Regions from separate parts of the Homo sapiens genome. Here region 2 is linked to region 1. Evidence: fine-mapped QTL for protein levels in blood plasma. A gene starts in region 1. The other region holds a variant in brackets. All regions are shown on one strand. Distances are between the middles of the regions. Region 1 holds the start of SCLY (selenocysteine lyase). Region 2 overlaps SCLY (selenocysteine lyase).

What was found. PIP is the posterior inclusion probability: the model's chance that the variant is causal. Protein levels are from antibody-based Olink assays in UK Biobank. Linkage for the fine-mapping came from a reference panel and not from the study's own genotypes, which makes the PIPs less certain.
Region 2: its variant is fine-mapped to the plasma level of the SCLY protein (UK Biobank, PIP above 0.99).

What each region holds. Positions count from the first base shown.
Region 1 is chr2:238,058,290-238,063,656 of GRCh38, forward strand. SCLY (selenocysteine lyase) reads left to right here and starts at 2,712. Exons shown (of 12, transcript NM_016510.7): 1 at 2,712-2,854. The coding sequence starts at 2,766. All of the region lies in intron 8 of UBE2F-SCLY (UBE2F-SCLY readthrough (NMD candidate)), which reads left to right. RefSeq lists silencers at 2,122-2,331, 2,472-2,921.
Region 2 is chr2:238,093,192-238,098,499 of GRCh38, forward strand. It overlaps SCLY (selenocysteine lyase), which reads left to right. Exons shown (of 12, transcript NM_016510.7): 9 at 670-753; 10 at 1,229-1,331; 11 at 3,610-3,685; 12 at 5,011-5,308. The coding sequence ends at 5,164. UBE2F-SCLY (UBE2F-SCLY readthrough (NMD candidate)) reads left to right here. Exons shown (of 19, transcript NR_037904.1): 16 at 670-753; 17 at 1,229-1,331; 18 at 3,610-3,685; 19 at 5,011-5,308. Among named protein-coding and RNA genes, the nearest start is that of ESPNL, 4.5 kb to the right of the region's middle. RefSeq lists enhancers at 983-1,652, 1,653-2,320, 2,989-3,656, 3,657-4,325, 4,326-4,993 and 2 more. The variant C/T (reference allele first, on the strand shown) is at 3,805.

The DNA.
Region 1 (5,367 bases):
CCAGAAAGGGGCTCCCACAGTGCAGCGGTGGGCTGAAGGGCTCCTCAAGTGCCACCAAAGTGGGAGCCCAGGCAGAGGAGGCGCCGAGAGCGAGCGAGGGCTGCCAGGGCTGCCAGCACGCTGTCACCTCTCACTATCTTCATGGAGATGCCATTCCTCAAATGTCTGGCCACTATGGGGCACTTGTGTTTGTATTAGAGACATCTTGGTAGGTCATCTGTTGCATGTGTGACCAGTATACTTGGAATGGTGGTAGCTGCTGCTGCGTGTTGTACCCTAAACTGTTTTCAGCTGGGCTACCTCAGCACCTGGGCTTCTGTATGTTTGTACTCAATTCTTTCGGGGTATCACCAGCCATGTTGGACACTATCTTGTCTGACTCCACCACTACACTCACTATGTTCACCTGGAAACACAAACCTTATTGCTGCCTAACTGGCCCAAGGAGTGCTTGGGATGAATCGTCACTTTGTCCATTGTCCTTGGGCTCCTATCCTTACAGCCTTCCAAACAGATTTAGAGAATGAATTCTCCCCATGCCTATCAACTTCCCTAGCCACCTTTACTCTTAACTTCATCCCCTATCGTCTCCTCCAGGACTTTGGCTCCTCTTCCTTGCACGTCCTGTTGGCTAACTCCCTTTAGCCTATGAACATGTTCAGTCTCTATTTGCTCTTAATCTTTTTTTTTTTTTTTTTTTTTGAGACGGAGTCTCACTCTGACTCCCAGGCTGGAGTGCAGTGGCATGGTTTCAGCTTCACTGTGTAACCTCCACCTCCCAGGTTCAAGTGATTCTCTTGCCTCAGCCTCCCCAGTAGCTGGGATTACAAGCATGCACCACCACAGTCGGCTACTTTTTGTATTTTTAGTAGAGACGGAGTTTTGCCATGTTGGCCAGGCTGGTCTCGAACCCTTGACCTTAGGTGATCCACCCACCTCAGCCTTTCAAAGTGCTAGGATTACAGGGGTGAAGCACCGCGCCCAGCTTGCCTGTAATCTTATACGCCTTTTTAATTCCTCCTTTCTCAACCGTTTTAAGAGTTGACTGCATTCTTCATTTTTTCATATCCCATCTTTGCATTCTAACTTCCATGCCTCTCCCATCACTGAGACTTCTCTCGCTAGTTTATCAGTGCCTCCTAATTGTTACGCACAGTAGACTTCGGATTGCCTCTCAGCCACACTTTACACTATTATGTGTCTTCTTGACTTTTTTGACATTCCTTCTCAATTCCCTTTCCTTTCCTCCTCTTTTGACTGTTCTCATGCTCCTGTGCATCCATTTGCTTCTTAAATGTTGGTGGGCCCTTTGCTATTGGCTGCATTTGGCAAGAAATGAGCTGCGTTTATAGGGAAGAATGAGAGAGAATGAGTCCAGAAATTTGCAGATTTGCTGTGCTGGAAAAGCCAAGTTATTCTGGACCCCAACAGGACACAAAATAGAGAAAGCCCATGAAAAGCCAATTAAAATTCAACCTCTTGGCAAAGCATGCTTGAAACCGAATTTTGGCTCCAGCCACTACTCGTGTGAACTTGGGCAAGATGCCTTTCTGTATCTTGGATTCCTCATACATAAATACCTACCAGACTGGGTTAATCATCAAGATTAAATTAGTGAACACACGAAAAATACCTAGAACACTGCCTGGCATAGTTCAAGGCTCAATTAAAGGTAGACACTATTATGCCAAAAAAACAAAAAACAACAAAAAAAGTGACGGTAGGATGGCTTCGTGAGGATTTTTGCTCATTTCTACCACTTTCTCAACTGACTTTTCTTAATGGTTGGCGGGACACCAACCATTGGTGGATGTTTACACTTGTGACTGTCTCACAGACAACTCAACATGTCCAAAGCTAAACCCATCATCTTTCCCCCTCCCGTCTTCCCTCTTACCCAGATAAAGGCACTAACATCTTCCCAGTCACTTGTCTAATCCTTGCTTCCTTCCTGTCCCTCATGCCCCAATTCCTATTTAACGGCCTAAACAGATCTTGAATTAATCTTTCCTGCGTTTCCACGCCCACTTAGAGTCCCTCATCTCTGGCCCTATTTTCTCAATGCCCTCCCATCCTCTACTCCAGATCCCCTCAAGTCCATCCTCGATGCGTGACTCTTAACTTCACGCCATCCAGGTCCCCTATGGAGCCGCTCCGACTAACGGACGCGCAGGTCCAGCGGACCTGCTCATCACTGTCCAGGGTGGCCTGCGGGAGACCCCCGGGGCCCTGGCCCTGCTGCCGCGGCCCCGGCACTTCCCCTCGAGGGTTCGCGGGGAACAAGGCCGCGCGGCCCCGGCTCTCCCGGAGTGCACGGTCCCGCGCTCATGCGGCTAGAGGGAGGCACCCGCAGGACTGCCCAGCCGCCTCTGCTCCTCAGGTCCAGCTCGGGCCCCGCCTGCTCTTACGCCGACTAACCGGCCGCGGCCCGATGGCGGCCCTGCCGCAGACAGCAAAGGTCACGGGGCTCCCCCGGAAGTGAAAGTGCGGGGATCCGCCGGCCCAGGAGACGCGGCTTCTAGCGCCCGGTTCCCGGGAAGCTCTGTGACGCGCTAAGCCCCGCCCCCACCCGTCACCTGACCCAGCGCAGCCTCGCCTCCCCGCTGGGGGCTCGGCGGCCCTCTGAAGCGGGTGGATTGGCTGGGGTGCTTCGCTCAGCCAATCCGGACGCGCCCGGGCGTCGCGGCCCCGCCTCCTCCCCGGCGCTCTGGGCCCGTAGCGCTCCGCGGGAAGGAGGCTGGATGCCCGGCAGCAGTGGGGCGGGGATGGAGGCGGCCGTGGCGCCGGGGAGGGATGCGCCGGCACCCGCGGCGAGTCAGCCCAGCGGCTGCGGGAAACACAACTCGCCGGAGAGGTGCGCGCCTTTAGGGCAGGGCTGGGGAGCGGCCGGCGCCTGTCGCCGATTGTCCCGCGCGGGAGGACGAAGGGGGCTCCCGGCCTGTGGCCGCTCTCGCGTGGGGCGTCCCGCGCGGGGATGTCCGCGAGGTCGGCCTAAGTCAGGGATGCGAGCTTCAAGGAGGAGCGGGTGCGAGCTGTGGCCCCGCAAGGGCCCACGGAGAGGTGACTTTGGGGCCGAAACCCGAGTGACTTCCAGGGGTGAGGTTTGCAGGTTCTGGGGAAGCAGAGCCTGCCAGGAAGAGGGCACAGCAGATGCGAAGGGCAGGGGACTTGCCGGAGGTGAACCGGCAGAGCCCCTGAGCCCGGGAAGAACTTTGGGGTTCATTCGGAGCCTTATGGGGCCTCGGAAGTTGATCACGGGGCGATGCAATTTAAGTGTTTTGAAGGAGTCCTTCTGGCTGCTTCCTAGAAAGTAGGGGCGCGGGTAGGCATGGGACGAGAGGAAGCCGGGAAGCCAGTTGGGGATCTTGTAACAACCTAGGAGAGAGATGTGGTGTGCGCCCAGAAACGGATGCGTTGGTAGGAAGCTGGTGCACTGGGGCAGGTGAAAGGGAATCAAGGGTTCTCCCAGACTGCTGGCCCAGCTGCAGGAAACGGGATGGCCACCGCTGAGAAGCGCGGAGACCCGAAGCACGTGGTATCCATACTAGTTAAGTCCGAGAAGAGCAGGAGGCAGGGGTATGCATTTTCTGGTTTGTGTGTCTTCTTTCCAGACCCCTCTTTTTCCTTTTTGTGAGCTCATTCGCTACCCATGCTTAGAATATGAGGGGGTCCAGGCCTAAAGCACACACATTTGGCATTCTACCTTGGTTGGAACAAAGTGAAGGGATCTGGGAAAATATCCCCTAGGGAATCAGTGGAGCGAGATTCCCAAGATTTTTTATTTTTTGGTTATGAAGCTAACAAAGTTGAGCCTGCTCATCCAATACTGATAGCATTTTAAGGAAGCAGCAAATAATGAAGCAAAGGAATGTGTAAAGTATTAATCTGAACAAAATAGATTTGTTCAGCCCAGCAGCAGATTGAAGAGCTACAGTCGCTCAACAAACACTAGCTAGCCTAAGGTACTTTGGATGCTTATTTATAGGAAAGAAAAACAGATATAAGGGCACATGCAAAGTCAAGCCGGGCTGGGGGATTCCTAGGACTATTAATACTAGTACCAGAGTGGTAAAGGATGGCGAGTCAAACTTGTCAAAGCCTTGTACCTATTGAGTGATTTTTTTTTTTTTTTTTAATTGAGATGGAGTCTCACTCTGTCACCCAGGCTGGAGTGCAGTGGTGCAGTCTTGGCTCACTGCAACATCCACTGCCCGGGTTCAAACGATTCTCCTGTCTCAGCCTCCCAAGTAGCTGGGATTACAGGCACGTGCCACCACGTCCAGCTAATTTTATTGTATTTTTAGTAGAGATGGGGTTTCGCCGTGTTGGCCAGGCTGACCTTGAACTCCTGACCTCAGGTGATCTGCCCGCCTTGGCCTCCCAAAGTGCCGGGATTACAGGCGTGAGCCACAGGGCACAGCCTGTTGAGTGATTTTGAACAGAAAAGATGCTTCATTTCAACTAATGCACATTCTGTCCACACTCAGTGGCTTAACAGCCACAGTTAGTCATTGTATCTGGGTTTTCATGTGGATTGGTGTAAGCACTGTTTATTTAAAAACTAGATAAATTAATATCAGGCAGGACTACTACTACACATTTTTCTAAAGGCTTTCGAAGGTTTTGGATATTAGTAAAAAGATATACAGATAAATTTTACTTAGTGAGGGATCTTTCAGGGAATTTGTACTTTCTGTGGCATTTATTTTGTCATCTTATAAAAATCAGGCCCCTGTTGTGTGGCAACCATGGGCTTCAACATTGGTGACAGGGCAGTGAGAAAAACAGAGCCCCCATGCCCATGGAGCCATACTTCTGTTACTCTATTAAGGTAGACAGTAAGGGAACAAGTCTGGTATGTCAGATGATGATGCTGCCCAGAAAGGAAGGCGGGAAGGGGACCTGGAGGCTGGGGAGGTAGGGACATAGGTGGCTGCAGTTTTGTGGGTTTGTTTTTTTTGTTGTTGTTTTTTTTTTTTTTGAGACGGACTCTCACTCTGTTGCCCAGGCTAGAGTGCAGTGATATGATCTCGGCTCACAGCAACCTCTGCCTCCTGGGTTCAAGCAATTCTTCTGCCCCAGCCTCCCTAGTAGGGCTAATGTTTGCATTTTTAGTAGAGATGGAGTTTCACCATGTTGGCCAGGCTGGTCTCAAACTCCTAACCTCAAGTGATCCACCTGCCTTGACCTCCCAAAGTGCTGGGATTATAGGCGTGAGCCACCGCGCCCAGCCAGCTGTAGTTTTAAGCAGAGCTGCAGGGCAGGGGGTCTCACAAGAGGACTAAGTTGGAACAAAGACCTAAAAAAGTAAGGTGGGGGCAGGGCATGTAGTCTTTCTGGGCAAAGAAACTGAAAGTGCAAGGTCTG
Region 2 (5,308 bases), 35 kb after region 1:
AACCCTAGACCAAGGGTCTGGATGCCTGCCATGGCCTCCTGGGGGCCTGCTGCTGCCATTTTCCACACGGCCACAGAATGACCAACAGACAGGCCAGTCAGACCATCGCATCCCTCCCTCAGCCTCACTGCGTCTGCCCCGTGGCCGGGCCTGCAGGGCCTGTCGATCTGTCCCTGCGCCTTCACCCCCTCCACACTCTCCACCCGCCACGCCAGGCCCCTCTGTTCTAGAGACAGAATGTCTGTCTGTCCCCTGCAAAGCCCTTGCTGGGACGCCATTCCCTGCCCTTGTACAGCCATCTCTGTCACCACCCCACCTTGGGCCTGCGAGGTGCCTTCACAGCGCCAACTGGTGGGTAGGAGTCTGTTCCCCTCTTCCCCTGCTTTTGTCCGTCTGCCTCTCTGGGATGCTGGCTCCTCGAGGGAGCCCTTTCAGGGCTGCTTTGCTGAGGCATCTCCAGTGCCTGGTGCTGTCAGGAGGTACCTGGTGAAGTCAGTTTCTGGGGCACTTCCACACCCTCCAAATGGCAGCACTCAAAAAATATGGTCTGTCTGTGACTGTCAGGAGAATGAGCAGTTTCAGGAAATGCCACCTGTACCGTTGAAAGCTTTTTGGCCCTCCTTTATTTTGCAAGAATTGTGCATCCACTTGTTGTGTGTCTGCCCCCAGGCCGCGGAGCTGGTGACCCAGAACTGCGAGGCTTATGAGGCCCACATGAGGGACGTCCGCGACTACCTGGAAGAGAGGCTGGAAGTGAGCGCAGCGTGGGGTGGGCACCAGGAGGGGGAGGGTGCGTGGGGCAGGTGCCCAGAGAGGAGGGGTGTGGTGCTCCCAGACCCCAGGACCTGTGGGGATTGCAGCGTAGCCTGGAACTCAGCAGGATGCAGTGAGGGAAGAAAGAACAGTGGCAGAAAGTACATTGGGATCTGAAACCCCGAAAGCAGGACCCTAGGCCAGGGGCATGATCTTTTTCAGAGACACAGGATCAAATATGCAGAGGTGGTATACCTCATGGTTTATGTGGAAGGTTCATATGTTTCTGAATATTTGGTTTTTCTCCTAATTAACTTTGCTTTCCATAGTCCGTCCCCGTAACTATTCTGGGTAGATGCTGATTGAAAAGTATGCACCTGCTGAAGTTGTGTTTCTGGAAAAGTCTAAATTTCAAACAGTTGCTGGTGGTGGTGTCTTTGAAGCTGTCACCAAATATTTCACTTATTTTTTTCAGGCTGAATTCGGTCAGAAGAGAATCCATCTGAATAGCCAGTTTCCAGGCACCCAGCGGCTTCCCAATACCTGTAACTTTTCCATCCGGGGACCCCGGCTTCAAGGTGATGGCCCCTCACCCTGGTCTTTCCGAGTGTGAGCACAGCTCCCTCGGTGCGTGGATTCTGGTCCGAGCCAGTGACTCCCACTCGCCCTGCCCTGAGCATGACACAGCTCGGGCTGTCAGAGGGCCTTGCTGGGGTTGCCAAGAGCAGGCTCGGGTGGCTGTGCTGTGGTCCACAGGGCTCTCGCCGCTGGCCCCTCCTCTCCCTGACGTGGCTCATTTTGCTGCTGCTGGGATGTGGACTGTGGCAAACTCTCGTGTCTGGCATTAGCGCCACCCCAAAAGCCGTCAGGGAAGGAAGCAACATTAAATTCTAGACATTTGTCTATTTTGTTGGCAGTTTTAATTAAATATTTGAGTGAGGGAAAGGGGAGGTGATCAGTTTTAAAAACTGGCAGAGGCTGGGCACAGTGGCTCGTGCCTGTAATCCTAGCACTTTTGGAGGCTGAGGCAGGCTGATCACAAGGTCAAGAGATTGAGTCCAGCCTGGCCAACATGGAGAAACCCCATCTCTACCAAAAACTACAAAAAATTAGCCAGGCATAGTGGTGTGCACCTGTAGTCCCAGCTACTTGGGAGGCTGAGGCAGGAGAATTGCTTGAACCTGGAGGTTGCAGTGAGCCATAATTGAGCCACTGCACTCCAGCTTGGGTGACAGAGTGAGTGAGACTCTGTCTCAAACAAACAAAAAACAACAAAAATAACTGGCAGAGTAAGGATCAAGTGCAAATCTGGATTTCCTGCAACATCTGCCTCGGCTAGGAGCAGTTAGGATCACCCCCGTCCCAGATGCACCTAAAACCTGGTCTGCCCTGACTCCCTGAGAGTGGAAGTCCAGGTGATTGACCAGCCGCATGTCATTTGGGAGGAGGTTATAGTGGCCCTGAGATCACGATGAGCTGCATCTGTAAACAAGTTTTTGACTTCTTAGAAGATGAAAGTGTTGCTTCTTTCTTCTTCCTGGATCACGCAGAGAAACCCAGCAGTCGTGTTTGGCCCATGAAGAAGAACCCGTGGGTAACCGTCATGATGGCTGCGTTCATGAGAACCTGGGCTGAAATGCGTTCTTGTGGGCAGTGAAGCCTGGGTCTCCTTGACCATCTCAAATTCCTCACCATGGAAAGGAGAGTTCTCTGTCAACGTTCCCCTTGTTCTGGGGTCAGACTTTGTGTTCAGTGACAACCTGTGTTACTTTAAATGAGACAGAGGTTCTCATTTTATTTATTTATTTTTTGATTCAGGGTCTCACTCTGTCGTCACCCAGGCTGGAGTGCTGTGGCGCAATCACAGCCCACTGTAGCCTTGACCTTCTGGGTTCAAGTGATCCTCCTGCCTCAGCCTCCCTAGTAGCTGGGACTACAGGCATGCACCACCACACCTGGATAACTTTTTTTTTTTTTTTTGAGATGGAGTTTCACTCTTATTGCCCAGGCTTGAGTACAGTGGTATGATCTCGGCTCACCACAACCTCCACCTCCTGGGTTCAAGCGATTCTCCTGCCTCAGCGTCCAGAGTAGCTGGGATTACAGGTGCCTGCCACCACGCTGGGCTAATTTTTGTATTTTAAGTAGACACGGGGTGTTGCCATGTTGGCAAGGCTGGTCTCGAACTCCTGACCTCAGGCGATCCACCCACCTTGGCCCCCCAAAGTGCTGGGATTACAGGCATGAGCCACTATGCCCGGCCTTGGCTAATTTTTAAAAAATATTTTGTAGAGATAGGGTTTCCCTGTGTTGCCCAGGCTGGTCTCAAACTCCTGGCTCAAGCAGTCCTTCTACCTTGGCCTCCCAAAGTGCTGGGATTACAGGTGTAAGCCACTGCACCTGGCTGAAATTCTCAGGTTAATTACATCAGCAGTCATTAATGGCTGTGCTTGTGAAAGAAGAGGGAAATGCCTTCTGGCTTAATAGAACTCCCACGTGTCTCTACCATCCAGAACACAGGTGGAGACGTGATATTGCCGGGGCTGCCAGCTTGTAAGGAAGGAGCGGGTCAGGACTCCAGGTGTCTTAGCAGGCAGTTGATTACAAATGCGATTTTCAAGGCCAGCTTTGTGAGGCAGAATAGTGTCTGCGTTTGTGCAGCCAAGGGAGAAAGGAAGCGTTTTCTTCGGCTCCTGCTGTGAGATCTCTCCCCAGCTGCCAGAATGGCCAGTGCTGGAATTCCACCAGGTGGCACAGAGGGAGGGAAGCAGCCTGCGCCCAGCAGGACCCCGGGAAGGGACAGAAGGGCAACCTGGCTGGAGCCCCATCTCAGGGGCATGTGCTCTGTCTCCGCAGGCCACGTGGTGCTTGCGCAGTGCCGAGTGCTGATGGCCAGTGTGGGGGCCGCGTGCCACTCGGACCACGGGGACCAGTAAGTGCTCTTCACAAACCCAGTCCAGGGCATAGGGGTCCTCCGGGCACTGGGTGTGGTGGGCAGGCGGCAGGATCCGGCCACTGGGCCGCACTCTGGCTGGTGAAGGACAGCCCTGT[C/T]TGGGCCCTAGGAGGGGCAGAGGGAGGGCTTCCTGGAAGAAGTGACTTCCAAGCTGCCATCTGAAGGACTAGGACTTGTGCGGGAGAAGAGGGCTTCTCGTGCTCAGTTCTGAAGGCGGAGGGAGGGCAGGGCCTGGAGGGCCAGCGTGGCCGGGGCTGGGGAGGGCTGGGGCGGGCTGGGGTGGGCTGGGGTGGGGATGGCCTGAGTGTCAGTGCTTACTTAAACCTCATGGAAGTGGGAGCCCTGAGGGCCATGGTGTGAGCAGACTCAGGTGTCAGATCAGCCATCTGCAAGATGCAGCAGAGATTCTCAGATAGCAGGGCCCGGGTGAGCGGGTGGGCTGCCTGGCGGAGACTGTGGGGTAGAGGGCGTGGGGTGCCCGAGCAGCGGCCTGCTGGCAGCAGGGGAGAAGTGGTTCTGGGTCTGGTCTGCTGAAAACGTGAGGCCCCTGTGGGAGGTCGGAGTGGACGCAGGAGGAACACTCAGGGTTCTGGGGAGAGAGCGGAACTGTAGCCAGCAGCACGTGGCCATCAAGGTCAGGGCAGAGGGATTGTGCAGGAGCACCTGGAGCGAGACAGTGGTGGGCCTGGCTCCAGGGAAAAGGAGGGGCAGGATGGGGCCCTTTGTTGGGGGGACAGTGCCCTGCTGCAGGAGGGGCAGGGGAGGAAAGGGACCCGGGTGTGATGAGGTCAGGCCCCTTGACAGAGCCCACATCTCGAGCCTCCAACAGCCTTGCTTCAGGATGTCCCCACGCAGTCATCTGTTCATGGCTAGATACTGACTGGGTCCCTAGTGTCTGCAAAGCCCCATGCTAGGTGCCATGAAGTTACCAAGTGGCTCAGGTGGGCCGCATGGGTAAGGCACTGTCTGTGTCGGCATCCGTGTTCTCCAGGACCTCAGACCCCTCAAGGACAGGAGAGCCCCTGGCCCCAGAGCTCAGTGCGAGAGGGAGGCAGTGTCACCTGGGAGTGCCAAGTGCAAGAGAACTCTGCAGGGAGAACGGGGGCGACTTTGAGCCACACCTTGATGTGGGTGATCTTAGGGGTGTGCTTGGTCTGGGAGTTTAGCAGGAGGTGGATGCCAGGCGAGGCAGGCGCACATCCGGGTGGGCAGAGCCCCACTAGGGGAGTGGTCCAGAGCAGGGGGGGCTGTGTCTCTTCCATGTGCCCTCAGCAGCAGCTGCAGCTCGGTCTCGCCCTCCCCAGGCCGTCCCCAGTGCTGCTGAGCTACGGTGTCCCCTTCGACGTGGCCAGGAACGCGCTCCGGCTCAGCGTGGGCCGCAGCACCACCAGGGCCGAGGTGGACCTCGTCGTGCAGGACCTGAAGCAGGCCGTGGCGCAGCTGGAGGACCAGGCCTAGCACTGGGGCCGCCTTCCCCACCCCGCTTCTGGGAAGCCCGTGGCAGGGCACAGGGTTGTCCCTCCAGTTCCCTCCTGAGGGCTGTGCCAGGATGACTGTCTCATGCCCCCTCTGCATTTTGTCCTGGAGTGCCAGCGAGTGTGC